Homo sapiens: one gene and its partners. The protein of the gene in region 1 purifies or fractionates together with the protein of each later gene. This does not show direct contact. Each region holds a gene or a part of one and is shown in the gene's direction. Other genes may lie near its edges. The genes, in order: ZC4H2, RNF220 and AGGF1.

What was found.
Region 2: the proteins of ZC4H2 (region 1) and RNF220 purify together in Homo sapiens (affinity purification with mass spectrometry; 3 studies listed by BioGRID and IntAct, with this or other methods). This does not show direct contact.
Region 3: the proteins of ZC4H2 (region 1) and AGGF1 purify together in Homo sapiens (affinity purification with mass spectrometry; 3 studies listed by BioGRID and IntAct, with this or other methods). This does not show direct contact.

Annotation. Positions count from the first base shown.
Region 1 is NC_000023.11:64,971,893-64,982,755, reverse strand, and holds the start of ZC4H2 (zinc finger C4H2 domain-containing protein), read left to right. Parts: upstream 1-6,305; 5' UTR 6,306-6,378; coding exon 6,379-6,431; intron 6,432-10,863. UniProt on the Homo sapiens protein: Plays a role in interneurons differentiation. Involved in neuronal development and in neuromuscular junction formation.
Region 2 is NC_000001.11:44,637,532-44,648,196, forward strand, and holds part of RNF220 (E3 ubiquitin-protein ligase RNF220), read left to right. Parts: intron 1-7,166; coding exon 7,167-7,263; intron 7,264-7,463; coding exon 7,464-7,550; intron 7,551-7,689; coding exon 7,690-7,745; intron 7,746-7,828; exon of another isoform or gene 7,829-7,878; coding exon 7,879-7,957; exon of another isoform or gene 7,958-10,665. UniProt on the Homo sapiens protein: E3 ubiquitin-protein ligase that promotes the ubiquitination and proteasomal degradation of SIN3B. Independently of its E3 ligase activity, acts as a CTNNB1 stabilizer through USP7-mediated deubiquitination of CTNNB1 promoting Wnt signaling.
Region 3 is NC_000005.10:77,038,989-77,049,653, forward strand, and holds part of AGGF1 (angiogenic factor with G patch and FHA domains 1), read left to right. Parts: intron 1-542; coding exon 543-731; intron 732-7,358; coding exon 7,359-7,689; intron 7,690-9,172; coding exon 9,173-9,284; intron 9,285-9,947; coding exon 9,948-9,999; intron 10,000-10,665. UniProt on the Homo sapiens protein: Promotes angiogenesis and the proliferation of endothelial cells. Able to bind to endothelial cells and promote cell proliferation, suggesting that it may act in an autocrine fashion.

The DNA of each region.
Region 1 (10,863 bases):
TGGCTTTATAAGTTATCATCCCTCTAACGCTTCTACTATAAATGAAGCCATTTTGCCCCAAACTTAGGGGAAATAATGGCTACAACCTTCACATCAAATGCTGCCCTGTCCATTTTGAGATTTCTAAATGAAGCCTCTGTCATTGTCTTCTCAAGCCTAAATCAAGACAACTTATTTATAGTTTTTTCATGCTTCTCTCCTGTTTCTATTCACTGAATTATCCCCAAATTTGGGTTCTCCAAATGACTCTAAGAATTAGGGCAAGTGGTGAGAAGGATGAGGGATATTGACCTGTAATCAATGCCTATTATAATTCAACCAATGTGCTAGGTGCTTTCTCATAACTTATCTCTTTTCATTTAATCATTAAACAGCTCTGTGAGGGGGACAAGGGCCCTATGAGTAGTTCTAAAGTACCCCAGCCTGGGAAAGATGTGCAGGGAACCTGGTAAGACTCAGCCCTTTTGGAAACTCAATCCCATACTTAGTTCTGGTGATATAAAGGAGGCTGTTAGAAACGGAAGGTCATTGGAGCTAGACAGTCAGTTTTGGTCACTCTCAAAGAGGTGAGAATTGAAGAAGAGGGGAGGGTGTGGATGAAAGTTTACTAAGAAAATGCAGTAGATGTACACTAGACTGCTTTTATAATAGGATTTTTTACACTAGGGTTTTTCGGACTTGCAGAGGGGAAAAATGGGACTCCCCTACTTCCACTGCCAGATCTTTGTTCCCTGAAATTTGCATTTGGGGGATCTAGGTCAGTGACATTGGGTAGGTGAGAAAGAATAGAGGAGTGAAATTTCAATGACATAAAGCCATCAAAAACAGCAAGAATTTCAGCTGAAACATTGCCTGAGAATACCTAGCACTGTCTATGTAAGCAGATACAAATTCTGGCTAATCACCCACAAGTCCCATCTCCTAGGGGAATCTTCAAAGTTAAGGCTTCAAACACACCCCTCAACACCCCAGCTGAAGGGCTGAAGTGATGGAGAACATGAAAATTTTCTGAGAGAGTGTGAAGAATGAGATTACCTATCTCAGCTCCTAACTCCCTAACCTAGGGAGGTCAATTACCATTTCTGTTCTTCAGTTTTTCCATATATCACATGTGAGTGCCTTCTAGCTCTAACATCGTACGGTTCTCTTCCAGTCTTTCCTGTTTCAGTGAATGGCACTGACCTTATTACTGAAGCCAAAAATCCAGGAGTCATTTTAGATGCCTTATCTCGCCCTCCGTACCTCTCCATCCTATCCATGAGCTAATCATATCAGTTCTGTGCCCAATAATATGTTCCCAATCAGCCCATTTTTCTTCATATCTACTATTACTACTGTAATTCAAGCCACCATAATTTCTTTCCTGGACAACTGTAATAGTTTTCCCACTGGTTTTCCTACTTCCACTTTTGCCCCAATAAAATCTGTTCTCACAGCAGTCAGTGATGTTTAAAAACTAGATCATGTTGCTCCCCTGCTTAAAACCCTCAATGTTTGCCTATTGTAATTAGAATAAAACCCAGACTCATCACCATGGTTTACAAGACCCTGTTTTTAGAATAACAGTTCAATGACATAAACTGTCTCCTCAGTCTACTTCTGCTCCCCTTAATCAGCCAGAGCCCTACCTACTTTTTTTTTTCATAGGCTAAGCATTTTCTGACTCAGGACCATTGCACCGGCTATTCGTTCTGCCTGGAGCACTCTTCCTCCAGATCATTGTATGCCCAACTCCTTATGTCTCCACTACAATGTCATCTCTGAACAGGAGCCTTCCCTGACCATCCTAACTAAAACATTCCCCCTCCTGCCATCATTCTGTCCTATTATCCTCAATTAGTGTCTTATGGGCTTATCTCCCCCAAATATTATTATGTTTATTTTTTTTTCTTTTCTGTCATTATTGTCTGGCTCCTCCTACTAGAATGTAAACTTCCTAAGAACTGGGATCTTGGGTAACTAATAGAACATAGTAGGTGAGAGCATGGCTTCTGGAGGCAGACTCTCTAAATTTGAATCTCAGTTCTGCCACTTACTAGCTGTGTTACTCTGGGCAAGTTACTTAACTTCTCTGTGCCTCAACTTCCTCTTCTGTAAAATAAGGATGATAATAATATATACTTCCTGTGAAGTTTTTGCAAGGATTAAACTAACTTAATACATGCAAAGCACTATATATCCCTGGAACCTAGGAGAGTGCCTGGCATGTAGTAAGTGTTCAGTAAATATTTGTTGGCTGTTTGCATGAATTAATCCTCGATACCTCCTGCTGTTTCCCTCCCTTCCTCTCTCATCCTGCCTAGTTTTGTTCAGGAAGCTTTTCCCTGACTCCTTGCCCACTTCTCAGGACTAAATTGGTTCTCCCCTTATGTGTGTGTGTCTTGCTCACAGAACCTAGACTTATTTCAAGCCCTGATTGCTAGGTATAACTATATATGTATGCATGATCTTTGTAATAGCTGGTCTCTCTCACTAAATGGTAAGCTTGGTAAGGGCAGGGCCCATGTCTGTCGTATCTGCTATGAAATCTTCACTGAAACCTCGATGGTTCCTGACATATCATAGGTGCACAATAAACATTTTTGGGCTGAAAACTTTTGGCTCACTTTTCTCTTAGAAATGCTGATTAAGAAATATAATGAGAAATTTAATAAGTAATTTGCACTACTTTTTGAAAGGCAATTTGGAACCAAGACTGTTGTTGCATCTCTGCCTCCTTTTAGTTTAGTTCACTGTTGAAGTACAAAGAAATATCTGTGAATTCAATATTCTGGCCTCCATTTTTAAAGTCTTGATCTATTCCCTGAAAGTATAATCGAGACTGACTGGCTTCCCTTTTGCTAATTTCTTGCATTTTAATGGTATTAACCCCAACATACCCTGCCTTATTGCCTTAGCAATAAGAATAATGTTGGCCCTGATAAAACTAAGATTTTTTTTTATTTCTAACCCCTCAAATCAATCAGTTCTTCTAATAAAATCATGCATTAGAACTCACTGCTAGCCCATATCTTAAATATTGTTTCAGCCATTGCAAACTTCTGATCAATTGAGAGCTACTGAACACTTACTATGGAAAAGCCACCACCTTGGCTTGCAGATACTGTTTTAAGTGCTGCTTCAGAAGAAGGGGCAGAAGGCTATAGTTTCCTTCTCTTCCCCACTGTTTCTCTACAACATTTTCCTTCCTCTCACTGCTAGCCTGGATTCTTAAAATTCAGCAAGGAACAGGTGAGACATCTGTTCTCAAGGAGGTCAAGGAGCCAAAAGCAAACCAGCAGAAGCTAAGAGGCACATTACTCTTTCTGTATTTGGACATTTTAATTGTTACAAATAGCACAAACCTTCTTCCAAGCTCCAGGTTTTCCCATGGCCTCTTCTCTTAGATTAACTGCTATCTCCCTTAAATGTCCATAGTTGGAAGCATGGGACATGCTTGGCCCTCTGCAGACACCCTATATTGGAGTGCACCTTCTGGCTGAAAAGTAACAGAGGCATTCAGGCCCCATGGTAGCAGCAGCAGCTTGATACAGGCCGCATGGGGCCATAGGAAGAGCACAGGCCCTTGAGTCAGGAGTCTTGGTTCTGTTTCAGCCAAGTAGGGTGATGTCAGACAAGTCCTTTGCCTCTCTTGGTCTCAGTTTCCTCATCTGTAAACTAGGATTTCGGTGAGGCTTGAAAGACAAGATAGTTCCCAAATTATTACCAAATCAGACTCTAAACCCATTAACATATTTAATTGAAACAGATACATACCCACATCCAGACTTTTACCAGATGTGTGAACATAGTCAGTGGTAAGGATTCTTAAGGTGAAGGGGACAATGGAAAAAGAGAGAGACATTAAATTTAAAATCTCAAAGGCTGTTCATAAATTGCTTCCCACACATCCCATACAAACCCTCCGCTTCTCCCCAAGCCAGCATTAATGCATTATAAACCACTTTATGTTTGACATAGATACATACACTCGGGACCCCATTGTAGTTTTGGTTGCTATATATATATATTTTTTTTTTCCAGACACACTCTCTTCATTAATCTGCAAGTAACTTGGTCCAAACTGGGCACAGGCTCTAGCTTTATAACTTATTGTGTGGACATGGCAAAACAACTTTCCCTATCTGAGTCAGTTTTCTTCCTTCTAAAAGGGGATGAATCTACTTGCCCCCTTCATAGTGGTTGTGAGGATGAAATGATAGATTGTACATATCAGACTCAGCACAGTAGCCAGTACATGTCAGGCACTTAACGCAGGCTTGTTGCTTACCTCCTCCCCTTACGGGACAGAGCTGGGGCCAGTTCTTGGCTCTGGATCCACAGGCTTTGTGACTAACCAACTCAATGTTCTTTAAATACCAACTAGTGGCTGTACAAGATAGCAACCTTCAAGACAATAGGAAAATGTAGACACCAGGGAGAATTTTATGGTTAAGAAAGTTATTACATCTTGGATCCAAAGAAGAGAAGGGCTTTAATTTCTTCCCTGGAGAATGCTTAAAATCACTGTGGACATCCAGAATGACATGAGATTCATGTTCCACAAACTTCTCAAGCTCCTACAAAATACCAAGCCCTGTATTCAGCATGATCATGGGAATGATCTCATAGAGGCCTCCCAACAAGCCTCTGAGGTGGGCTCACTAGGTACATTTTTCAGATGAGGAAACTGAAGCTCAATAAAAGAAAGCACAAACTCAGAGAGAGTTCTGACTCACTTTTAGTTGGGAGTGAGTCACCATCTTCCTTTTGCCCAACGTCCAGCTCTCTAGGCCTGTTTGTGCACGCTGAGTAACTGCCTCTTACCTGGTCTCATGTCCTCTAATCATTCTCCACTTTGCTTCCAGAGTCCCTCTCTAAAATATTCCTCCATCCTTATCACTACCGTGCTTTGAAACATAAAATAATTAAACATTACTTGGTGCAGAATAAGCACTTAAAAAATGTTTATTAGGGCCAGGCGCAGTGGCTCATGCCTGTAATCCCAGCACTTTTGGGAGGCTGAGGCGGGTGGATTGCTTGAGCTCAGGAGTTCAAGACCAGTCTGGCCAACATGATGAAACTCCATCTCTACTAAGAAATACAAAAATTAGCCGGGCATGGTGGGTGGGCGCCTGTAATCCCAGTTACTCGGGAGGCTGAGGCAGTAGAATTGCTTGAACCCAGGAGAAGGAGGTTGCAGTGGGCCGAGATCTGTGCCATTACACGCCAGCTTGGGCGACAGAGTGAGACTGTCTCATAAATAAATAAATTAATTAATTTAAAAGTTTATTAGATAAATGTCTGCCTACAGGATTAAGTCCAAACCCTTTAGTCTGACATTTAACGTATTTCATAGTCTGGTTCCTACCTGCCTTTTCTAAATACTACATCTCCCATTTCTTTTTTCCACCTCTACACCTCATATAAGAAACCTATATTTCAGGCACTCTGAACCACTCATCCTTTCCTTTCTCTCTCTATTGTATCCTCACCTGGAGAGCCCATTCTCCTCTATGGTCTGACAAATTCTTAGTCACTCTTGAGACCTATTTACATCTTCTCTGCACAGGTTACACCTTATCTATTCCTGTATTTTGACACCACACTGTACTGTAATTAATAGGTAAATTTTCAGCCTCTTCTGTTCCTCAAAGGCAAGGATTTGCTTTTATTTATCTGCCTTGCCCGGTGACTCCTACAGTACTTCTTCCATTGACTGGCAAAGTCCGAGCTTAAGTAATTGTTTGTTGAATGGGTAAGTAGCTGGAAGTACTTACCCACTCTCCTTTCCCCCAGCTTTTGCAGCATCTCCCTCCTCCCATCCTCCTCTTCCCCACCCCCGCCCCACCCTAAATTGAATGCCAAAGTTACTGGTCCCCAGGCAGCAGCTAGCACATTCAACGTCTCCAAAGCTACTTTCCCTGCAGGGTTTCTTTCCATCCCCAAGGCGTAATTAGCGACTACCGCTAATCTTTTGCGGGTGGGTAGGTGCGAGGGCCCCCGAAGGGAGCGAATGGGTATGTCTCTCATCTCTCCAATTGCCTTCAGGAATATTTTTTTCTCCATTTTCCCACACACGGGCCAGACGAATATCCCCATTCCTTTGCACTCTTCACAACCTTTGACATAATTATCTATAACAAATTGATTTAAAGTGCGGCTGCAGGAAGGGAAACAGGCATGTCTCGCTTGGCCTTCTGGGAGTTGTAGTCCTACAGGCCCCCGGGCTTCCTGGCTGGCCCTGAAGCTCCGGACTACAGCTCCCAGGCCTCTCCAAGCCCCTACCGCACAGGCTCATAGCCCCAAGCCCGGAGGAGGTGGCTACATTGTGTCTATTGTATCCCTTGGCTGGTGTATTTGTACATCTCTCGGGACGTGAAATTGACAGTGAAAAGTATGGCAGATGAGCAAGAAATCATGTGCAAATTGGAAAGCATTAAAGAGATCAGGTAAGTGGCACGTTGTCCCCCTCCCCGCCCCTCTCCAACCCTTCGTTGCGGGAGAGGGCTAATTATCTATTGTTGGGCTGTTTGTCTAGAGGAGCTGGAAAGGGGCCCATTCACCACAGACTTGCCGGAGAGGTGAGGATGGGAGGGGCGCTGAGGAGAGTTGAGAGAGAGAGAGACCTCTTGCCAGATGTGGCTGAGAAAGCAAAGATGAAGAAACACGGGTTTGGTACCAAGACAGTTTTATTCTTCTCGAGGTGGAGGTCAGGGCTCTGCATTCATGGACACGTTTTTTAAAAGTACTTGTGTGCCCCAAGGTGTCTTTGGCTCCTTGCTCTTTAGGAGTCGGGATTTTTTTCCAGTCTCTTGTTCAACTTCAGAACCTGGAGTTCGGGAAAGGCTTTTGAGAGCCAAGTCTAGCGCATCGGGGCTGGTGGCTGCTGCCAGGGGCTGCCAACTGGGGGTTGCAGAGGAATCTCAGCGGGCGGAGCTGGGAGAATGGCGCGCGCTCGTTTTCCTTTCACTCACTCGCCACTTTCTTCCTTCCTATCCCGCGCTTGGGAGGGGGATGGGAGCAATGGGGACTGGGGACGCGGTCGCTGCGCTGATGGTGGGATCGCGACAGCTGCTCTGAGGAGCTGGAGGTGACAGGCGGGCTGGCAAAGTGGGAGTTGCCGAAGTGGAGTCCGCTACACGGTTGCTCCTGGAGCAGCTTTTGGCAAAGCGATGATATTGTCCTTGCTCAGAACACAATAGCGCCAGGCGGGCTGTGTGGGCTGGCACAAGGTCTTTCTTCACCTCGCCTTCTCAGCGTGAGCCCCTGCTTTGGCTTTTGCTCTCACTCTGAGAGTGGCCTGGGTCAAGCTCTCTCCCTGGAGTGTTTTCTGAGAACCCAAGGTGGAAGATGTCAAGTGTGTTTCTTTAAGAAATAAGACTTTGATCATGAGATTTAACCCTTAGAGTGCTGGATGAGACCTACACATGGTGATTAGTGGTGGTAGGTAAAGCACCTTGGTTTCTTCTTCTTCTTGAGGGGTTGCATCTCTCTTTCTACAGGAGAGGTAAAGGAAGGGAACTATCATTTATTGAGTCCCTTCCCGCCCCTGTGTGCCAGGCCCTTTGACCTACTTTTGCTCATTCAGCAAGAGTCCTGTGAGCTTCCTACTCCTCCTTTACAGCTGGGGAAATAGAGGCCCAGAGAATTTGAGTGATTTTCCCACAGCCACGCAGCTTGAAATTGCCACATTTTGTTGGTCTGCCTGCAAAGGTATTCCTTTTCCCACTATGTCCCAGGTAAAGTCTGGAAAGGAGAAGGGAATATGTTGCAATTTTTTTTTTTTTTTTTTTTTTTTTTGGCAAAAGCATCAGAAGCTAGCTAGAAAGTGAGACACCTTAGTACAGTAGAATGCCAGCTGTCATAACGATGCAGCTAGTCAGAAGCTTAGGCTTGCAAATGGAGAGCCTAGACTTCCACTCTCACCAAGCTTCAAAGGAACCACCACCCCATGCCCAGAGAAGGACCAGTTGTGAGCAAGGACTTTAATCCCCAGTGAAAATAGACCTCTCCCAGTGAAGACCATATGGAGAACCATGACTTCTACCCTTACCAGTGGTAACTAGGAGTTTCTACCTCAACCAGCTAGGATGGAATCAGCATAGGCCCAGAGAGAAGGCCAAACTTTCACCTCTAAACAGCAGTAACAAACAGCCCTTCTCCAAACTGGATGTCAAGAGACAGTGGAGAAACTGGACTTCTACTGTCCCTCTTCCATCCAAGAGAGTGGTAGAGGACTGCTAAAACAAAAGATTTAAATAAGATCCAGAGTATCCAACTTTTAATCAAAAATCACTTTCCATACTAAGATATCCACTTGAATGAGAAGAGAAAATAAACAGATGCCAATACTGAGATAACACCCATGTTAGAATTATCTGATAAGGATCTTAAAGCACCTGTCCTAAAAACATTTCAGTGAGCAGTTACAATACACTTGAAACAAATGATAATGTAGAAAATCTCAGAAAATGAATAGAAAGTCTCAACAAAGAAATATAAAACATAAAGAAGAACAAAGTGACATTTTTAGAACTGAAAAATACAGTAACATAAAAACCCCAAAAAACTCAATGGATAGGTTCAACAGTAAGGTGGAGAAGAGAGAGGGAAAAAATAGCTTACAAATATAAAACAATAGAAATCACTGTGGCACTATAACAAAAGCTTTAACATTTATGCCAACAAATTCCCAGGAGAAAGAGGGCAGGATTGGAAAAGTATTGGGAAAAATAATGACTAAAATCTTCCCAAATTGTGCAAAAGACATAAACATTTAGATTCAAGAAGAGGAGCAAACACCAACATAATTGACACAAAGAAACACACTCCAAAACACATTGTAATCAACCTTCTGAAAATGAAAGAAAAAGGAAACTTCTTCAAAACAGCTGAAGAGAAACAAAAGCTACAAAGGAAAAAAAAAATTAGAATGACAGATTTATCATCAGAAACTGACGATGCCCTAGCATTTTGTAAGTGCTGAAGGAAAAGAAGTGACAACCCATAAATCTATGTCCAATAATAATATCCTTCAGTATTGAATGGGTAATCAAGACATTCTCCAATGAAGAAATACTAAGGAATTTAGATATACCCTAAAAAAAGATGATAGTAAGCTCTGAAAACAGAAAAGAAACAATAAACAGTAAGCAAAAGCATGGTTAATGCAGTAGACTTTCTCTTTCCTCTTGAAATTTCTTGTATTTTGATAATTGAAGCTAAATTTATACTGTTATCTAGTGTGGTCTCAGCATATGTAGAGGAAATATTTAACACATTTATATTGTAAACTGGGGAATGTAAAGGGGATTGTAAATGTAAAGAGATGTAAAGGGGAGGACATGCTTCTACACTTCATTCAAGCATGTAAAGTGGTAATGTCAGAAGACTATTAAATAAATTATGTATACATAATATATTACTGAGAGAAAACACTGAAAATGCTATACAAAGAAATGTACTCAAAACATTATAAATAAATCAATATGAATTTTTAAAAAATGCTCCAGTCACCCACAGGCAGGCAGGGCAAAGAAAATGGAGAAACTAAAATTACGGAGAATGAACAGAAAAAAAAATAAAAAGGCAGACTTAGCCTTCATGTATCAATAATTATGTTCACAACAAATAGTCTAAATACCTTGCAAACATTAATCAAAATAAAGCAGGAATGGCCATCTTAATATCAAATAAAACAGACTTCAGAGCAAAGAAAATTCCTAGAGATGGATATTACATAATGAAAAATAGTCAATCTACCAAGAAGACATAACAATTCCAAATGTGTGTGTTCCAAAAGTGACTTAAATTAAACTGCTTTTGACAATTTTACAGTAATATACAAAGGTTAAGCCACTTGGTTTAAGAATTTAAAATGGAGAAAGTACTATAAATATATACTTGATGTTCACATATGGACAGATAAACATGTATGAGAGATAGAAATAAGGAAGGAGCAAAGGGTCAAAGAAACTGAAGAAAGGAACTAACATTTGTCAAGCACCTTTTAATTTAAAAGCTCCTGGCTCATTTACTCTTTAGTCTTCCCAAAGGAAATCTGGGATAGGAATTATTACCCCCACTTTACGGATAAGGACATTGAGGATCAGACAGATTAGGCAACTTTCCCATGGTTACACAGCTAGGAAAGAAAAAATAATATATCCTCCTATTCACATGGCATGCACATTTCAATGTTATTAACTGCCCTTACAAATGCTGATTATCTGATTAACCATTATTCACAGTTCTTCAACTGCTATAATCCTAAATCTCCTGAAGTATAAGCATAGCAGCATATTTCTGTTAAAGAAATAATGTTTGCTGGACAGAAGCAGGAATGATGACAGCAGCATCATCTAATGACCTATTGAAGTCAAGCTAAGAGCCTTACACACATCAAGACACGAGCCCAGAAATATATGCATTCATACTCAGCACTCACACCAATGGCAGAATTTGCAGTGGGAAAAACATCAGAAGCAGATTCTCCCACCACAGACCATTTTCTGCTTCTAACTCTGAACACACGCCTACCCCTGTCTTTCCTCCCAATCCCAATCACACTCCCACATTATGTTCCCAACCTCAGCCTCCAAATCCTACACTAATCTATTTTGCCCATGTTTTCCTTGGACTTTTAAATGGTGATGAAGGAGCATGTAGATAAGTGGAAGAAGAGAGACAAGAATGGAACAAAAGAAGGGAGATAGAAAAGAGGGAAAGGGAGGATAGCAGTAATAAAACAGAGACAGTGAGTACAGGCACCATTAAATGGACCAGAGCCCTACACCAGCTCCCCAAGTACAAAACAATATTTCCTTAAAATGCACATGCCATCCATTCATGTGTATTGCGTACACTCACACCCCGATGTAC
Region 2 (10,665 bases), on another chromosome or scaffold:
AACTGCTCACATCCTCCATTGCTGTGGCACCTTCTTAGGTTCCTTGGCACAGACCTGGACCTGATGGCTTCTGGGCACCAGACAGGGCTTATGGAGGATAAAGCTGCAAAGGGCCTGCTGATTTGACAAGAGTATTTCCCCTGTGCCGGGATGCACTTGCACAGCAGTGTGAGGGGCTCTTAGGCCCCGGGCGGGTATCCGTTTTCCCTGAGTGTTTACACTGTGAGGTTGTTCCTTTCAAGAATTCCTGAGGGGAGTTCAAAGGGGGCTTTTCTTTGAGCGATTTGGAGAGCGAGAATGAGAGTGAGACTTGAAGAGGGAACAGGGGCCGGAGGTGCCTTTATCTGCAGAGAATTGCTCCAGCTTTCCTGATAGAAGCTGCTGCCGCCTCTTAAACAGCTTAGTGCAGTCAAAAGACAGGCAGACTTGAAAGGCTGTTTTACAGCGAGATCAGCGGGGGCCACGAGGCAGAGAGCGGGGCGCAGTGGAGCGGAGGAGGCTGAGGCTCCTCAGTGGGGGGGCTATCAAAGGGAGGCCCTGGCTGATCCCTACTGCCTCTGCCCCCAAAACCCTGTCTGCAAAAGCTGGCCATCTGTCAGCCTACCCTCCCTGGCCAGGACTGATAGGCCCTAACTCTTGGGGGGTTGGGTGTGGCCTCGCCAGGCGGGCTGGTGTCAGTGCAGCGCATTGATCGCCCGCCGGGCGGGCCGGGCTGCAAGCCGGGCAGCGCGTGCTTAATGTGATTGAAAGGCAGTTAAAATGGCGGTGACCTTTTCAGGAGGAATTAGATTGCCTGCCAAGACCGGTTAGAGGGAGTGATAACGCCAGCTGAAGAAGCTGCCCAGCAGACTTCAGAGAGAAGGAGGCAGAGGCAGGATGAGCAGGCGAGTGGCGAGGCCCATTTAAACTGCGCTGTGCGTGCTGACAGAACAGAGATTGCTGTCGTTGTTAGATATGAAAGAAGTGAAGAATTGCAGATAAGTTCCTGTATCCGATCACCCCCATCCCTCCTCCCAGAGTAGGGCCTCTTCTTCATCCTCAGCAAAGCTTCCCACCAGGCCCCTGGAGGTTGGTCTGATGGATCAGATCGGTTACCTCAAATGTAATCTGCTGTGGGAAGCAGTGAACGGGCAAGAGTTTCGGTGGAGACACTTGGCTGAGGGCAACAGGCCTTAGAGATGGGGACCTGTGGTTACTGAGGAGGAGCTCCAGATATCTCAGGCCTGGGAGTACTCGGATTGATATTTTAGGACAAAATAAAGAAGCAGACAGAGCAGGTGAGCACTGAGGTAGGTCCCACTGGAAACAGATTTTTGAAAAGACTAAAGGAAATAGGTATTACTTCAAGAAAGTAAGTTGGAAGGAATTTTTGCTGCCTAGGAGGCACTCTGACCTTCCCAATTCTAGAAGAAATACTTAAGCTGTGTGTCTAAGTTGTTGATTGTCCTTTCAGAACCATAGATTTTCTAACCTGCTACTGCTCTTTACATAAAGGACAGCACACAGAGCCTAGTGCGCCACCAACATTCCACTAAAAGAGATCCGCAGTTAGGGAGAAAAGATGTTTTTCTTGGGTACCATGCCAAACCTGGGCAGAGCAAGGGGCTTCTAGGCTAGAGAAGCAGACTACAGGGGAACCTAACTATACAGCCCTTAAGACAAGCCTGCTTCCACCTGTAGTCTAAGGAGGTGTGTGACTAAGGAGCCATGCCTTTCCTCTCCTGTCCTCCATCCAGCTCCTGGATCCTGGAGAAGAGACCTATAGTGGTGAACCATGGTCCCTCCTGTGTGTTGGTTGCCAGTGAGAGTTCACCCAACTGCATTGGGGAGCCCAGAGCTCCTCACATCTGGAAGGGACATGCTGGAAAGAGGACATGGGAATGATTGGTTTCAAATAAGGTGGCAATGATGTGGGCACAAGAGTGGTGAGATGGAGAAATTTCCCAGGAAGCTTCACAGGAAATGGAAGCCTGCAGCTGTATCTTTAAGCCCTGGCGGTGACTGCGTTGCTAAAATCCAGCATGAAGCCCCTCTGAACCAAACAGGAGGAGTGGGTAGGGAAAAGAAGGGTGTTAAGACAGTCAGCAGTGCAGGGTCTTTGTCCTGCTCAGGTCCTGGCCTGAAGCGTTTCTTATCTTTCATGAGTTCCTTACATTTAAGCCGGTTCCAAGTAGCTGGATGAGAAGTCATGAAGCAAACAGGCAGAGCAGCTGTGGCACAAATCTTTTCTCTTCTTTTCTTTTCTTTTCCTTTTTATTTATTTATTTTTGAGACAGAGTCTCACTTTTTCACCCAGGCTGGAGGCTAGAGTGCAGTGGCACGATTTCGGCTCACTGCAACCTCCACCTCCTGGGTTCGAGAGATTCTCCTGCCTCAGCCTCCCGAGTAGCTGGGATTACAGGCATGTGCCACTACAACCAGCTAATTTTTGTATTTTTAGTAGAGACGGGGTTTCACCATGTTGGCCAGGCTGGTCTTGAACTCCTGACCTCAGGTGATCCACCCACCTCGGCCTCCCAAAGTGCTGGGATTACAGGTATGAGCCACCACACCCGGCCTGGCACAAATCTTTTATCTGGCTATTTCTTGATAAAACTTCAGCGCCAGAAGTATGGGGCAAGGGGGTAAGAGGTGTTGTAAGCCCCAGGGCATGGGCACATAGGCCTTGCCCTAGCTGCTGCCTTCTTTGGTGTGCTAGTTCTCAAAAGAAGGGAGCCCCAGGTGCTAAAAATGTCCCCCAGTGCAGCTCTGCTGTTGGTCCAGCCAGTGACAGGTGTTGGAACAGCACACTGCTGGAGGCGGTCTTGGAGTGGAGAGGGTTGGGCTGCTGCCTTGTGACTCCCTACCATCTTTAGTTCTCTCTGTCGCCTGTTGGGAGGGGTGAGGAGAGGTGGCAAGGAGCAAGGCACCTTCTGTCCCCCGTGGCAACTGATGGGATTTAATCGCCTTTTGGAACACAATTGTTAAGCTAGGACAGAGGGAGTGCAGGCAGAAGGAGCAAGTATCAATGGTTTTAAACGGCGTCTGTCTCTCTGCGTCTCTCCTGACGTGAGGCAGTGAAACGCGTTATCGAGGAGGCCCGGAAAGTGGCTAAGTGCGTTTGACACACGCCAACTCCCTGCCTCCACACTGGATAATTGCATTGTCAACTGTTCAGCGAGGTGGCAGGTGACACTGCAGGCCGATTGATTGTCCCGCATCGCAGCTCCCCAGACTGTCAGCTCCCCAATCGATGGCGTTTACACAAGACACCGTAACTGCATCTGTAACTAATTCCAGTGTAAAACTCGCCGGAAGCTGCTGCCCCTGCCCTCCGTGTTGGAGAGCACAGGCCCCTGGAGGGCCCCGAGACGTTTCCTTTCTCCCTGGGCTCTGGTTTTGTTGGGAGCAGCAGGTGAGGAAATCGATGCCTCCTTTTTTGTGGTTTCAGGTTCCAGGACGATACTGCCCCCAGTAAACGGGCATCTCCAGTTTCTCAATCGATCATCTGATCAATTGATTAAATTAACACTGATTTTTTTTTTCTCCCTTCTCAATAACCCAGGAAGAAATGAGTTTATGGGAGAAGGGTCGTTTTTATAAAACGTAGACCTGTGTTTCATTTCTGCACTTAACTCTCTCCCTCTTTGTTGCTCAGTTTTCACTGTGAGGAGAAGGATATTTTTTTTTGCACTACCCACCCCGCCAGGAATGGACAACTCTGGCACCACCCTGCTGGGTATCATTGACCATCAGGCTTAGGTTGCCTATGGGTGGGGGCTCAGGCCTTTATGCCACTTTAAGCTGGGGCAGAACTGTAGCAAGAGGCCCTCCCTGGTGACTGAAGGGTACTCTGGGCCATCTTGGAGGTCCTGGGGGCTGAGTTCCTTCCCTAGATAGCAGTAGTAGGAGTGGCAGCTTGCCTGTTATCGCTGGAGCTACATGGAAGAGGAGCCAGAGACTTGGAAAGGAGCTGTCTGTGCCATCTTGCCTCTGAGTACTGGCTTGGGATATTCCAGCAGCTGAGAACATCAAACGACTGTGGAGCCTTCCTCTCCAAGCGGGAGGGGGGGCAAGCTGGCGGGGGCGCTGTCTGCATAAAACGGCTTTATGGCCGTTTCTTTTTATTATGATTCTGCCAGAAGTCAGCAAGTGACATTTCATTAAGAAAATAAAGTTTAATGTGCTGGGAAAGAGGTTGGAGCAGGCTGGGGCAGCACAAGAGTGAAATTGGCAGCAGCAGCCTGTTCTGAACACCTGTGGGGGTAGGGAGAGGTTCCCAACATCTGTCTCAGCTGGAGGATGGGGTCAGGGTCAGAGTGAATGGCTCAGACCAGAGGCAGAGGCCTTTTCTTTGGCAAACAAAGTGTGTCGTGCTGTCCATCCTGCCTCACTGGCCAGCGGAACAGAAAGCTGCTGCCCGGCTGGGAGCTGGGATCTGATAAGGAAAGTTGTATCCTGAGAGATTTCTCTAGGCCACCAGCTAACTAGGACCTAATAGAGCAGTGTCGCCAGTGTTTAGCCAGTACTGCTGGGGTGTGCTGTGTGGCACCAGCCATCAGCCTGGCCAGCTCTGCTGGGTGATGCTGAGATCACAACAGTGAGTCAAACTTGGGACCCTTGCAGCTTCCACTCTGGTGAGGGACAGTGACAATAGGTGGTAATAAATATGATTTTGGAGTTACACAGGATTCTGGGTGGACACCAGGGAAGGGACACCTGTGTATAAGAACGTGGGAAGCCCCATCTGCCACGCAGAGCACCATGAGGATAGGGATCAGATCTTGAAGCTCTCTATTCTCAACATGGAGCCAAACAGAGGATGAGCCCAATAAAGGTTGAAAGAATGGCATTGAGGTGAGAGTTCTTTCCTTTAGCAGGGATTTAGAGAGCAGCTGCTCTGTGTGGGCACTGTGAGTTAATGGTAGGAGGCATGGTTGGGCTGAGTCAGACTTGCCAAAGGAGCAGGCATGTATATTGTAGACCAGGAGGGAGAAGGTTCTAGGCAGAGAGCAGGAGGTGCGGAGGCATGGGGGCATGAGAAAGCACAGGATTTGGGAGACCACAGTAGCTCTGTTTAATGGAGTATGAGTCCTGGGCCAGGCATGGTGGGCAGTAAGACTACAGAGAAAAGGACTTCAGGCTACAGGGCTGCTTTCTGCGTTGAGAAGCTGGGGCTTTTCCTGGCAGCTTTGGGGTACCCTGTTTTCTCTGCTTTGCCATGGAGCCATATTGGGCTCACATGTGGTGCCAGGGTTCTCTGCTTTCCACTTATAAGGCAGGGCTAGGCAGGGCCAGGCCGAGCAGAAGATGTGAGGCCAGCTGCTGAGCTGCGTGTACTTGGGGAAGGGGGGTTGGCAGGACTTGGGTGCCGCAAGCTGTAAGTGAACCTGATAGCTACATTCTGATTGATGGTGGAGTTTGTCTCCCAAACTGTCAGAGGGTTTATGGAGGTGCCACTCACCCACAAGGCGGGAATTGCTTGTCAGGACACCTGGCCGTGTACAGGAGACAGAGCTGTAACTTGGTGTTTTCTCAGCTTAATGGCCCTGCTGCTGACCTGACCTGCCTGCTGCCTCAAGTGTGTCAGTGCCTCAGGGTAGAGGGCAAATGAGGACTGTCAGGGAGAGGTGGATTGCAGGCTGTGCCTGGCATCTTTCCTTCCCGATGCTGCTTGCCTTTGGGATTGGTGGTGTCTTTGTGAGACCAGAGACTGGTGGGGTAGAAGGGAGAAGGATCAAGACTCAGTGTTTTTCAGGGCTTGAAAAATGGAGAACATTCCAGATGGAGTGAATAGCATGAGCAGGGGTCTTAAGAGCAGCATATACAGGCTATGTTTGTGGTTTGGTGAGCAGCCTGTGTGTGCACATGCTTGGGGTTTACAGAGTGAATTAGTAGAGAGCAAGAGTAAAGACATAAATGGACCCAGATCTTCATGGATCTGGCTGAGGAGCCTGGGCTTGGTTGTGCATGCAGTGGGGAGCCATCAATGGTTTTGGAGCAGGAGGAAAGGTGGTCAGAACTCAGTGGTAAGCAGAATGAAGGAACAGATAAGAGGCCTGAGGACTCCCTACAAGACATACCCTAATGAGAGTATAAGGACCTGAGAGGAAAGAGTGGACAAGCAGAAATGTCTGAAATCATCAGGCAGATACTAAGCTGCTTCCTCACTTCTTTAAGGATTTCCTTGCTGATCCCAGTAGCCACAGAGTCTCACATTCTTTTGTCCCTGGCAGGGCTGTGCTGGCTAGTGAGGTGTGGTCTGAGACCCACTAGGAGGAAGTGGGGAGCTGGGGGGAACAGCTCTATAGCACTTGACCCTAGGCTATCAGGAAGGGTGGTCCTGGATGTCAGAGAGATCGCCTGGCAGGTGAGCAGGCCTGGTGTAGCCCCAGCAGCTCGCCCCTCCCTCTGAGCTGAGAGTCCGTCTGTGGCTGTGCCAGATGCACCTCAGGGGTCAGCCACTTGCGTGGCCCATGGCCTGGCCTCCGCTCAGCCTGGTTGCCTTCATGGACTGCTTTGAGAAGTAGGTGTGCATGCCTGTCCTCCCTCGTCTGTCCCTTCTTAATCCCTTTATAACTGCACTTGTCCAGGAATCTGGGCTGAGTGAGGTGGAGATGAATAATTAATGTCAGGCGCTTCAGACACCAAATATTTGAACAGCTGCCTGGTGTTTTTGCTGGCAAGGACCTAGCGGCCAAAATCAGGATGTTGGCCGGGGGTCCCACTCTGTGGCTCTGATTGGCCTTAGCCAGCCTGTTCTCTCCTCTGATGGACTTGTCAGGCTGGATAATGGGGCATAGGGGAGGCCCCACTCTTTTCCTGTGAAATTCCTAGACCTGAATTTTTCTGTCCTCTTACTGTTCTTCCTAGACCTGGAAGATAGGTGGACAGCAGGCCTGGGCTGAGTGTCCCCGAGGACGTGACATAATATATGAATGGGCTAGTTTATGAGCAGAGACCACTTGGAGCAGCATGCAGTAGCAGAGAAAGATGAGGTTTGCAGAGTGAAGGGCCTGAAATGTCAGGGTCAGGGGCACTGAAGTATCTGGCTCTATACATCCCAGGCCCAGGTTTCCCTCTGGGCCTTATCAGGTCCAAAGCCTAACCCCTACCTGGAGGCAACAGGAGGGGCACCCTTGGCCTCGTCTTGTCCCCAGGCCCTCCTCACACCCTGCTTCCCACAGGCTCTGGCTTCATCATGTGCAGCGGCAAAGAGAACCCGGACAGTGATGCTGACTTGGATGTGGATGGGGATGACACTCTGGAGTATGGGAAGCCACAGTATCCTTGGAGCACTATGGGGGCTGGTGGGGCTGATAGGGCAGGCACAGGGAATAAGAAAAGTAGCTCTTCTAGTATTCACCTGCACCACCCCCCGGGCCAGAGTCTCAGCTTTGGCCAGGAGGGCCATGCTCTCCTGAGGATTCAACCCTCATAGCCTGCTGCAAACTAGGATCCATTGTCCTTGACCACCATGCCAGATACACAGAGGCTGATGTCATCCCCTGCACAGGCGAGGAGCCTGGTGAAGCCAAGGAGAGAGAGGCACTTCGGGGCGCAGTCCTAAAGCAAGTGTGGGCACAGGCTTGGGCGGGTGGAGCAGAGAAACAGGAAGCCCTGAGGCAGGGGTTAACGCAGTACTGACCCTCAGGGCTGTCCTGCCCGCCTTCAGGCCTCACTTTGTTTTTCCTCCCTCCTTTCCTCCAGTGGCGGCCCTCCCAGCACGCGCATCACACCTGAGTTCTCTAAATGGGCCAGTGATGGTAAGTCCTGCCCCAGGTTAGGAGTAATGGGGGAGAGGGGGTATCCCTAGATGGTGGTGACTGACTCAAGCCCAACCCCTCACCTGTGCTGCCCAGTCTGGCCGGAGTGTGAGTTGCCCCTCTGTCCCAGCAGAGATGCCATCCACCAGCAATGGTGAAAGCAGCAAGCAGGAGGCCATGCAGAAGACCTGCAAGAACAGCGACATCGAGAAGTAAGTGTTTGGCCAGGAGAGAGCCCTGGGACCACAGTTCAGTGGGAGGAGGGGCCCTTTGCTAGCAGGAAGGCCTGCTGCCAGGGCTTCTGGCCCTCCCAAGTGCAGCTCAGTGCTGCTGCCCTGGGCACACGGCCGGCAGTGGAGCCCAGCTGGTGCTAAGCGTGACTCTGTGAATTGATCACTGGGCCACGGCCCCAGAAGCCTTGGCGGTGGGAGGAGCAGTCCACCCGCCTGCCTGCCTGCCTGCCCGCCTGCTGCGGCGGCCTTCGCCCGGGGAATGTGATGTATGGCCGCCCAGCCCAGCCGGCACACTTGATTCATCTCCAGTTTCTGTTTCTTAATCGGGAGCTAAATTGGTTTCATTTTTCTTGTCCCGGGTGGCACTCGCAGTGGATTTTAGGCAGGAACATTGGGTATCATCACTTCTGGTAGGAATTTTTGGCCTGGGTTCTCTGGCAGAGGAAAAGGGATCCATTAGCACTTTGCCCAGGGCTGAGCAACCCCTGGCCTGGATCCCTGGGAACCACAAAGATTTGGTATCAGCTGGGCATCTTCCTGCCTTCCCAGAAGCCCAAGGAAGGCCAGTTCTGGCCTCAGGAGATGGCATTGTCCAGTCTAGGCTGCCTGGTGCTGCTGCCATTGGTCATTGCTTAACTCCAGTACCCACCCCACCTTCTGACTGCAGGCTAGGTTGCCTGGGGTTAAAAGGCAGCCTCTTCATTCCAGGGCCAGTGTTCCATCTTTGCCTCCTGCCAGGAGAGTGGATTGGAGGCCGGTGCAGGGCCGGGTCGGTGGCCCAGGGTCACCTCCCATTTGTTTCCCTCCATTTTGTGTTGTCATAAATTCATTCCAGCCCGTTGTGGTTGATCAGTTTATCTCGGCCGGGGCCGCGAGTGCTGCTGGCATGATGTATGGGCCGCGGCGCAGGGCCCGGCTGCCCATGAATCACCGCAGCTGCTCCGTGTCAGCGCCGGAGCGGGCCGTATGGGTTCTGCGCAACCAGCTTGTGGTGGGGAGGAATGACGTATGGATGTTTATTTAATAATTCTCTCCTACTCCAGCTGAGCAGGGCGGGCGGGGTTGTAAGGGGCACCCACCCTCGTCTGGAGGGGCTGCTCATAAATCAGAAAGACAAGATCATTAATCAGGGATGGCGCCCGAGGGGGAGGTGGGGGCAGAGCCAGTGGCTTCCATGAAGGTACAACCCACCCAAGGCTGGGGGGAGCCAGGATTTCTGTCCCACCTGTGTGAGCACAGGCACCCGTAGGCAGGGATCTCTATGATGAGGTGGAGACTGGCTCAGTCATGTGCAGAGCTCTCCACTGGGTCTGGATCTGCTGAGACTGGGGCCCATCAGTCCCCGTGATTTCTCTATTTCTTGCCCTAGATCTGTTTTACTACTCAGGGAAAAGGAATGGTAGGATGCCATGGCTCCTCCAGGAATCTCCCCACCCCATGCCCTGGAGGGACTCAGGAATAGCTCACAGCCAGCCTGGACCAGGGGTTGGAGGCTTGGGTATTTCGCCAGAGCCAAGATTGGAGGGCAGGTGTGTGCTGAGCACATCCAGGATAGGTAGGCTCTGGAGTTGGCTATTGGCCTTCAGTGGGGCCTTGTAGCTCTTGGAGATGGCATGGGAAATGGCTTCATTCTCTCCTGGCCTCATCCTTCTTTGCCATTCCAGCTCTAGTTCTCTGATTTGGGGTTTGGGAGTTAGTTCTCCATTCTGGTGTAGGCTGCCCCCAGCTGCAGGCCTTAGTTTCCCCATCTTTGACATAACTATATAGGACTAGGCAAATTCTCAGCTTAGTCCTTGGAGTGGAAGGGAGCACAGCTACAAATCCTTGTCTCCTTATCAGGAATTTACCTGTAATCCAGATGGGGATGGCACATATGGCATTGTGCAAAATGCCAGGGAAGGAGCCTGCTGTTCGGAGGCTTGTGAGGAGGGAAGGGATGGTAAAGGCTTCCAGAGCCAGAGAGCTAAATGGAAGCCCCCAGGGAATCAGCCAGTACCAGGAGGAAAGAGTCAGAGCCTTTCTTGGCATCCCTGGAAAGAGGCAAGGCAGAGGGAATCATGGACCCTAGGGTGATGGATTTAAGTGTCCCTGATACAAGGACACAGCCACTAAGGAGTCACGCTCTGTGTTGCTGCTAGCTCCCCAAAGGAAAAAGGCCAGAGATTGAAGTTGTATTGCCCATGAAATGGGACCACTACCCTCCCTGCACTCCCATTACCACTCACATCCAGCAATGACAGGCCACCTGTAAGCTCTCAAGCTTCCTGAGCCAATTGTCTCCCCTAAACTGCAGAACAGGTGCCCCCAGGAGACTGTCCTTGCCCAAAGTCCACGTCCCTTATGATTCCCCCGCCTCAGTCCAGCCTCTGCTTCCTGATTGAGTACATCTGTGAAACCTGAGCTGTTCGTACCCCCACTCTTCCAGCATCCTCAGCAGCTTCCTGCTGTCCACGAGATAAACTTCAGCTCCTTCAGGTGTGGCATTTGAGGTCCTCTTGCATGCCATCTCCTTTCTTACTGTAGCACTTTGCCTACATGTGGGCCTTCTAGCCAGACTGGGCTCTTGGGCCTCTTGGCCTCTGTTTCTGCTGTTCCCTTGGCCTGGAGCCCCACCTCCTCCTGGGTGTAGCCAGTATAGTCATGGTCAATCACACAGTTATTAGTTGATCATGGAATCAGTCTGCCAG
Region 3 (10,665 bases), on another chromosome or scaffold:
GTATGCATGAACTTTATTTTCAAAATTTTCTTCTCTAATTTTAAGTTATGAACATCAAAAGACAAATCTTTGTTTTATGACATTGAGAGGAGGGTTTAGGGGTTTATACTGCCACACCATTATTGTGCAGTCATTAAGAATCAGGAGTCTAGAATTGCGCTCATATGGTCAGCTTTTTCTTATGCTTGCTTTAGTTTTCATGCCTTTAAAAGTATTATCAATTTTTTTAATGTATTAAGTGGAACCATATGAAATTGCTGTTTCTTATAAGTTAAAAGTGGTCAAGTATTGACAATTTTATATGATTAAATTTAATATTTAGATTTACTTGTTTCTCACACTAGGAAAATTAGATCAGTTATTGAATGGTAAAGTATTTTGGAAGATTAAAGCATTTTTTATTGTTATCTTTAATTCATTGTCTTCTGAAAATACTATAGTTGTTCAAAGAAATATTTACCACATTTGAATGTATTTGGCATTTTCGTTAAGTTTATTTTATCTTACATGAATAGAATTTATTTTTTTCTTGACTTTCAAAGGAAAATCAACTCTATTATGATCCTTCCACTGGAATTTATTACTATTGTGATGTGGAAAGTGGTCGTTATCAGTTTCATTCTCGAGTAGATTTGCAACCTTATCCGACTTCTAGCACAAAACAAAGTAAAGATAAAAAATTGAAGAAGAAAAGAAAAGATCCAGATTCTTCTGCAACAAATGAGGAAAAGGTAATGTCTTTACAATTTTAAAAATTGACATAATGGTGATAACATGATAATTAAGACAAAATTTTTTATGAAACTGACAATCATTCAATAACTCTGCATTTCAAACATACCCATTAAGATAACCTAGGAAAGTTTAGATGGAGCAAACATGGACTTTTTCATAAACTCTGTCACTAGAAATAGAAAGCATTTCTTAAAATTTGAAGGAGATAGATTAAGGTCAGATAAAATATCTCGTATATAGTTTGGAAGAAGAATTCAGATCCTCAGTTGATAAGTTGATGTCAATGCACAGTTCATAATAAAAGATAAACACAGTTTATAGGTAGACATAGATACAGGTTCAACTTTCTTAGTTATGTGGAGCAATTTTTTACTTACTAGGACAATTTTTTTTTTTTTTTTTGAGACAGAGTTTCACTCTTGTTGCCCGGGCTGGAATGCAATGGCGTGATCTCAGCTCACCGCAACCTCCGCCTCCCAGGTTCAAGTGATTCTCCTGCCTCAGCCTCCCGAGTAGCTGGGATTACAGGCATGCACCAACACGTCTGGCTAATTTTTTTGTAATCTTAGTAGAGACGGGGCTTCTCCATGTGGTCAGGCTCGTCTCGAACTCCTGACCTCAGCTGATCCTCCTGCCTCTGCCTCCCAAAGTGCTGAGATTACAGGCATGAGCCACCGCACCCGGCCAGGAAAATATTAAAAAAAAAAAAAAAATCCATTGCTGACAACTGTGGAGTGAGATAACATATTTATTAGGATTAATAGTTTAAATGGCCTGCAAGACAATGGTTAAGAAAGCGATAGTTACATTTAATTTAAAAAAGTATTATGTAGGCTTTCAGATGGTACTTGTAAAGACTAAGGGGAACCCCAAAAATGCTTATGATGATGCAATGTTAAATTGAAAGAAGGAAAATATAAAAAGTTAACAGTGTTCTTTATTTCTACTCTCTAAACAGGTAAGTTTGGTGGTTTATAGGTTATAAAGGAGGCTTGTTTGTTTTATTGATATTTTATGAACTGTGGCAACTATTTGATATCTTACTCTTGAAATTTTATCTCATGGTTTCCTGTCCTGTCCTTTCCTGTCCTATCTCTGTCCTGTCTTGTCCTTCTGTCCTGTCCTGTTCTGTCCTTCTGTCCTGTCCTGTTCTTTTTTGAGACAGGGTCTTGCTCTGTCACCCAGGTTGAGTGCAGTGGTGCCATCATGGCTCACTGCATCCTCGACCTCCTGAGCTCAAGTGATCTGCCTACCTCAGCCTCCCAAAGTGCTGGGATTATAGGCGTGAGCCACTGTGCCAGCCAGTTTTTCTTTTCTTAACCAAAGAAAAATTACTTGATACTAAATTGTAAAGTTCACATAAGGAATTAGGATTCTGTTAGATTTTTTCTGTTCTCCTATTTGATTTGCTTCTGTTCTATTTTTTTGTGAACAATACTTAGGAATAGAAGAGTATGTGACTAAAATACTAAAAATCAGTTTTCTGTTTGCTTTCAAGATCTCTGTTTTAATGGCTTGTGCTTGTTACTAGTGGTTTGATTGTTTGAAAGGCTAGGTTGTAGGTCGGGTGTGATGGCTTATGCCTGTAATCCCAGCAATTTGGGAGGCCGAGGCAGGCGGGTTGCCTGAGGTCAGGAGTTCAAGACCAGCCTGGCCAACATGGTGAATCCCCGTCTCTACTAAAAATACAAAAATTAGCCAGGTGTGGTGGCAGATGCCTGTAATCCCAGCTGCTTGGGAGGCTGAGGCAGGAGAATCGCTTGAACCTGGGAGGCGGAGGTTGCAGTGAGCCAGGATCGCACCACCACACTGCAGCCTGGGCAACAGAGCGAGACTCCATCTCAAAAAAAAAAAAAAAAAAAAGAAGAAGGCTAGGTTGTGAAAGCACCTCTCCCTAACAATAGAAGAAGAATATGTAGGGCTCCTCAAATGGCCTTGCCTGAAAAACTAGAGAATAGACATGGAAAGCATTCTGTGATATTTTGGTCCAGCCTCGCTCCCATAACTACTCATCTTTGCCATTCTTCTTTGAAAATGTGCGAATTCCAAGACAAGAACTTTTTTTATTTATTTATTTATTTATTTATTTATTTTTAATTTATTTTTTTATTGATAATTCTTGGGTGTTTCTCACAGAGGGGGATTTGGCAGGGTCATGGGACAATAGTGGAGGGAAGGTCAGCAGATAAACAAGTGAACAAAGGTCTCTGGTTTTCCTAGGCAGAGGACCCTGCGGCCTTCCGCAGTGTTTGTGTCCCTGGGTACTTGAGATTAGGGAGTGGTGATGACTCTTAACGAGCATGCTGCCTTCAAGCATCTGTTTAACAAAGCACATCTTGCACCACCCTTAATCCTTTTAACCCTGAGTGGACACAGCACATGTTTCAGAGAGCACAGGGTTGGGGGTAAGGTCACAGATCAACAGGATCCCAAGGCAGAGGAATTTTTCTTAGTGCAGAACAAAATGAAGTCTCCCATGTCTACTTCTTTCTACACAGACACGGCAACCATCCGATTTCTCAATCTTTTCCCCACCTTTCCCGCCTTTCTATTCCACAAAGCCGCCATTGTCATCCTGGCCCGTTCTCAATGAGCTGTTGGGCACACCTCCCAGACGGGGTGGTGGCCGGGCAGAGGGGCTCCTCACTTCCCAGTAGGGGCGGCCGGGCAGAGGCGCCCCTCACCTCCCGGACAGGGCGGCTGGCTGGGCGGGGGGGCTGACCCCCCCCACCTCCCTCCCGGACGGGGCGGCTGGCCGGGCGGGGGGCTGACCCCCCCCACCTCCCTCCCGGACGGGGCGGCTGGCCGGGCAGAGGCGCCCCTCACCTCCCGGACGGGGCGGCTGGCCGGGCGGGGGGGCTGACCCCCCCCCACCTCCCTCCCGGACGTGGCGGCTGGCCGGGCGGGGGGCTGACCCCCCCACCTCCATCCCGGACGGGGCGGCTGGCTGGGCAGAGGGGCTCCTCACTTCCCAGTAGGGGCGGCCGGGCAGAGGCGCCCCTCACCTCCCGGACGGGGCGGCTGGCCGGGCAGGGGGGCTGACCCCCCCCACCTCCCTCCCGGACGGGGCGGCTGGCCGGGCGGGGGCTGACCCCCCCACCTCCCTCCCGGGCGGGGCGGCTGGCCGGGCGGGGGGCCGACACCCCCACCTCCCTCCCGGGCGGGGCGGCTGGCCGGGCGGGGGGCCGACACCCCCACCTCCCTCCCGGGCGGGGCGGCTGGCCGGGCGGGGGGCCGACCCCCCCACCTCCCTCCCGGACGGGGCGGCTGGCCGGGCGGGGGGCCGACCCCCCCACCTCCCTCCCGGACGGGGCGGCTGGCCGGGCAGAGGGGCTCCTCACTTCCCAGTAGGGGCGGCCGGGCAGAGGCGCCCCTCACCTCCCAGACGGGGCGGCTGGCCGGGCGGAGGGCTGACCCCCCCACCTCCCTCCCGGACAGGGCGGCTGGCCGGGCGGGGGGCTGACCCCCCCACCTCCCTCCCGGACGGGGCGGCTGGCTGGGCAGAGGGGCTCCTCACTTCCCAGTAGGGGCGGCCGGGCAGAGGCGCCCCTCACCTCCCAGACGGGGCGGCTGGCCGGGCGGAGGGCTGACCCCCCCACCTCCCTCCCGGACAGGGCGGCTGGCCGGGCGGGGGTCTGACCCCCCCACCTCCCTCCCGGACGGGGCGGCTGGCCGGGCAGAGGGGCTCCTCACTTCCCAGTAGGGGCGGCCGGGCAGAGGCGCCCCTCACCTCCCAGACGGGGCGGTTGGCCGGGCGGAGGGCTGACCCCCCCACCTCCCTCCCGGACGGGGCGGCTGGCCGGGCGGGGGGCTGACCCCCCCACCTCCCTCCCGGACGGCACGGCTGGCCAGGCGGGGGGCTGACCCCCCCCCCCCCGGATGGCACGGCTGGCCGGGCGGGGGGGCTGACCCCCCACCTCCCTCCCGGATGGGGCGGCTGGCCGGGCGGGGGGCTGATCCCCCCCACCTCCCTCCCGGACGGGGTGGCTGCCGGGCGGAGACGCTCCTCACTTCCCAGATGGGGTGGCTGCCGGGCGGAGAGGCTCCTCACTTCTCAGAGTGGGCAGCTGCCGGGCGGAGGGGCTCCTCACTTCTCAGACGGGGTGGTTGCCAGGCAGAGGGTCTCCTCACTTCTCAGACGGGGCGGCCGGGCAGAGACGCTCGTCACCTCCCAGACGGGGTCTCGGCCGGGCAGAGGCGCTCCTCACATCCCAGATGGGGCGGCGGGGCAGAGGCGCTCCCCACATCTCAGACAATGGGCGGCCGGGCAGAGACGCTCCTCACTTCCTAGATGTGATGGCGGCTGGGAAGAGACGCTCCTCACTTCCTAGATGGGATGGCGGCCGGGCGGAGACGCTCCTCACTTTCCAGACTGGGCAGCCAGGCAGAGGGGCTCCTCACATCCCAGACGATGGGCGGCCAGGCAGAGACACTCCTCACTTCCCAGACAGGGTGGCGGCCGGGCAGAGGCTGCAATCTCGGCACTTTGGGAGGCCAGGGCAGGCGGCTGGGAGGTGTAGGTTGTAGTGAGCCGAGATCACGCCACTGCACTCCAGCCTGGGCACCATTGAGCACTCGACAAGAACTTTTAAGAAAAATCCTGTTGGAATTTTGAGAATTTCCTGAGGATTCTAAAAGGTACCTGTGAGGCCAAGAGAGTATCTTCATCTGTTTTCTTTATTTTTAAAGATATTTTTGAGCCTCACTTTTTGTAGGTGAAGGTTATGTGGAAGGAAGACAGTAGGGGAGATAGGAGTAAATAATTTGAAATATACATATGTGCCTCAGTGCCCATAAATAAGCCCTCCTTTCTTTTCACTTAATGACTATCTAATGTTCTGTACTGGCAAATAGCTTTCCCTGCATATGTTGTTCAGTAAGTAATAAATATACAAGATTGGAAACTGCTTTTTTAAGAGTATATACAGATAGGGAACTTTTTTGCTATAATTTTATAATGTAAAAGCTCCTCATGGTTTTTCAGCTCCTTGCCCTTGTTCTTGTTCTGGGTGAATTTGTATTGCTAGAAGTGTGTATAATTTATCACACTGTGAATGTTTAGCCAGTCTCCAAGCTGAACTTACGCTGTTATCAAAGATAGGTATGTGAGGTGGATGGATCATGAGGTCAAGAGATCGAGACCAGTCTGGCCAACATGGTGAAACCCCATCTCTACTAAAAATAAAAAAATTACCTGGGTATGGTGGTGCGCATGCCTGTAGTCCCAGCTACTCGGGAGGCTGAGGCAGTAGAATCTCTTGAACCTGGGAGGTGGAGGTTGGAGCGAGCCGAGATCGCGCCACTGCACTCCAGCCTGGGCGACAGAGCGAGACTCCGTCTCAAAAAAAAAAAAAAAGAAAGAAAGGTGTGTGAGATGCTCTCATATTTTATAAAATAACAGAAGAGCATATGAATTCGCCTCATGTTGCTCTGAGGTAGAAAGAAAAGTGAGAGTGCGTTAGAAACCAAGGGAAAAAAATGGAAAATAATTATTTACTTTTTCTAAGGCTGAAATGATAGATTTGACCATTGTATAACACGGTGACTATTGTTAATAACAATGTGTTGTATTATTGCAAACTGCTGAGAGCAAATTTTAAGTTTCTTACCACAGAAAAATAAGTATTTGAGGTAATGTACATGTTAATTAGCTCAATTTAACCACTGTACATTGTGTACGTATTTCAAAACTTCATGTTGTACATGATAAAAATACATCATTTTTGTTAATTAAAAAATGTTCATTTATTATAAGGCATATCAACTATAAATGTACAATAAATAATAAAAGACTTATGCCAGGCAAGTTAAAATTTTGGAATAAGATAGTCACAGTTAATTTGTACTTTAAACTTTTATGTATTATCAAGCTGAATCTGAAGTACTAAATTTTAGCAAAACTACAATTTTGCTACATATTGAGTACATTTGGATCTTTAAATTCATGTCATAAGTAAAGCTAATTCTGTATTTTATTTGTGTTGACTAGCTAATTGATTACCAGTTTAAAAAGAAAATTTAGAATAGGTATTCTTTAGGCCTGCACTATCCAGTAAGGTAGCCAGCAGCTCCATGTGGCTGTTGAGCACTTGAAGTTTTGCTAATCCAAACTCAAATGTGCTGTTAAGTGTAAAATACACTCTGGATGTTGCAGACTATGTAAACTATCTCATTAATAATTTTACTTTTTAAATGTGGCTACTAGAAAATGTAAAAGTACAAATATGGTTTGTGTTACATTTTTATTGGACACCATTGGTCTAGGCTATCCCATAGTCCAGGCAGTATGTGATGAGGGCCTGAACTAGGAATGTTAAGACATTGAGAATAGAGAGACAGATTTGGATATATTTTGAGAAAAGTCTGTAGCACTTCGTAATTTTATATATGGTTAAGGGGATCTCAGAGATAACTATAGGATTTTTAATTTGGATAATAAGAAGATGGTAATATCATTAACCAAGAAAGGAAATGTGAGAAGGAGAGGGGGAACAGATTGTAACCATTGTTATTTTACTGACACATATCTTCACGAATTCGTTGAAACTTGATGTAATGTTATAAGATAGTGATGTTTAAGAGTATTCTCCCCTGTTCCCTCGTATCTACCCACCCTTCTCCAGGATTTGAACTCAGAGGATCAAAAAGCCTTCAGTGTTGAACATACAAGCTGCAATGAGGAAGAAAATTTCGCAAATATGAAAAAGAAGGCCAAAATAGGCATTCATCACAAAAATAGTCCCCCCAAAGTCACTGTTCCAACTAGTGGAAATACTATAGAGTCTCCTCTTCATGAAAACATCTCTAATTCAACATCATTTAAAGATGAGAAAATCATGGAGACTGATAGTGAACCAGAGGAAGGTGAAATTACAGACTCTCAGACTGAGGATAGTTATGACGAAGCCATTACCAGTGAAGGCAATGTAACTGCAGAAGATAGTGAGGATGAAGGTGAGTAAATAATCATTATTTAAGTAAATAGCCCAGTCTGGTAACTATAAAAGAGCAAAACCATTAAAAATGTTAGTGAGTTGTAGTATATCTGCCAGAAAGTAAACATTATTTTAATGATGTTATTGAAAATGTTGTGGGTTGCCACTTGGTTATTCTTAGAGAGTAGGATGTGAATAAATGACTAATACTTAGACCTTCAGAAGGTTTCATTGTATTGAATGGCATAGTCAGTAGAATACAAAGCCAGGTTACCTGGATTCTAATCTTAAAATATAGATTAAGGCTGTTTTAGTGGGTTAGATATTTGTAGTCTACTTTTGTAACTGAGAGAGAAAAACAAGTTGTCTTTAAAAAGTATACATTATGAATTCAGCTACATGGATATTATGGTAAATCTAATTTTTTTTTACTTGAATATATAAAGACATACTTTTAAAACACAGGATTTCATATTACAGTTGGCCTTCTGTATCCATGGGTTCTACTTTAGTGGATTCAAGCAACCTCAGATCAAAAATATTCAGGGAAAAAAATGGATAGCTACATCTGTACTGAACATGTACACACTTTTTTTCTTGTTATTGTCCCCTAAATATGGTGTACCTATTTATATAGCATTTACATTGTATTAGGTGTAAGTAATCTAGAGATGATTTAAGTTATACAGAAGGATGCACATAAGTTATATGCAAATACGATACAATTTATATAAGGACTTGAACATCCATAGATTTTGGCATATGAGGAGGGATCTTGGAACTAATCCCCCACAGATACCGAGGGCCAACTGTGTAGTATATGAGCTTACTTTGTTCTTTGGTTCTCAATGGCATTTCTCTTGCATTTTTTTTGAGACAGAGCCTTGCTCTATTGCCCAGGCTGGAGTGCAGTGGCGCAGTCTCGGCTTACTGTAACCTCCGCCTCCTGGGTTCAAGTGATTCTCTTGCCTCAGCCTCCCAAGTTGCTGGGACTACAGGCGCATGTCACCACGCACACCCAGCTAATTTTTGTATTTTTAGTAGAGACAGGGTTTGACCATGTTGGCCAGGGTGGTCTTGAACTCCTGACCTCAGGTGATCTGCCTGCGTCGGCCCCCCAAAGTGCTGGGATTATAGGTGTGGACCACTGTGCCTGGCCTTTTTTTTTTTTTTTTTAATGGACTCAATTTTTATAACTTAAAATAATATAAAAATATTTGGGATTTTTTCAGATTCTGAAACCTTAAAAAAGAAAGAGTTGATTATTTGATAACTGTGATAGATGCTAAATATGCAGCAACCTTTATGTGGATCACTTTAATAACAGTGTTAAGCCTTACCCATTGCTGCGTATTATACAGCAGAATTTAAGAAGTTTGTTTTAGTCAGAATTAAGATTTTTGACCAACACATTTTTATTTTATGGATGCCTCCTAGTTATCCCTATGAAGTTCTTTTTCATAGTAGTTAAATTAATATTTACTCACTTCTTTCCTTGGCAGATGAAGACAAAATTTGGCCCCCATGTATTAGAGTAATTGTCATTAGATCACCTGTGTTGCAGATAGGATCACTCTTTATCATTACTGCTGTAAACCCTGCTACAATTGGAAGGTAAAATGGTTAATATTATTATATCATTCTTTCAGTTATTTCAGAAAGGCTTTATTAAGAGCATGTATTTTTGTTTGTTTGTTTGTTTTTTGTTTTTGAGACAGAGTTGTGCTCTGTTGTCCAGGCTGGAGTGCAGTGGCACGATCTCGGCTCATTGCAACCTCCGCCTCCTGGGTTCAAGCAGTTCTCCTGCCTCAGCCTCCTGAGTAGCTGGGATTACAGGCGTGCACCACCACGCCCAGCTGATTTTTGTGTTTTTAGTAGAGACGGGGGTTTCACCATGTTGGCCAGACTGGTCTCGAACTCCTCAAGTGATCCACCCACCTCAGGCTCCCAAAGTGCTAGGATTACAGGCACATAAGCTGCCACGCCTGGCCATTATGTTAAGCATTATTCTATGTGCTGTGGATACAAAGAGGACTAATGCAAAATGTCTACCCAAAGGAAGCACAGTCTAGGGGGAAAGAAGACATGAGTAAATAATCACTGTGTGAAAGCACAGGAAATCTAGAGTAGCAGTAAGGAAACTGGATAATCCATAACCAGGAGATTTACTGTTGATAGACGTGTATTTTAACATTATCTGTTTTTTAAAATTCTTTCCATGTCACTTTATATAATATGCTTCAAAAATTATTAAAGACACTTTACTTAACTCTGCAGAGAAAAGGATATGGAACATACTCTCCGAATCCCTGAAGTTGGTGTCAGTAAGGTAAGCTCTTTGATTTATCAAATATAGTCCCCTAGATGTAATTTTTTATATTATTATTACAGTAGAAAGCTTAGGGATTTTTCTCATTTAATAGGAAGGTTAACATGCAGTGTAGTAATGGTAATAAAGGCAGTGCAGATCTGTTTATTCCAGTGCTTGAGAAAATAATTCTTTATCACAATTTGAATAAATAAAATTATGTTTATTTTTAAGAATCTGGACAAGAGTAGAAAGCATATGAAGTCTTAAAGTAGTACCCACTTAATGAATATTTATTGAGTGAAATAAATAGGCTACATTTTATGACCTTTAAAAAATGAATCTTACCTGGCTTCTGGCTACTTTAGTAGGTGGTTACTTTGAGCCGGAGGATTTCACAACCCAAGAATATATCCTATACCACTCAGGGTTCTTGTTTAAAACTTCTCCTAATTGAGCATCTAATGGTTTCAGGAAAAAGAACAATTGAGTTTTCAAAACAAATAGAACAGAATTGCAACTCAAGTTATAAGTAGAAAACAACTAAAGGTTTAGCTGCTGAGATTCTTTATATATTTTTACTTTTTTTTTTTTTTTTTTTGAGATAGGATTTCACTCTGTTACCCAGGCTGGAGTACAGTGATGTGATCACGACTCACTGCAGCCTCATCTTCCCGGGTTCAAGCA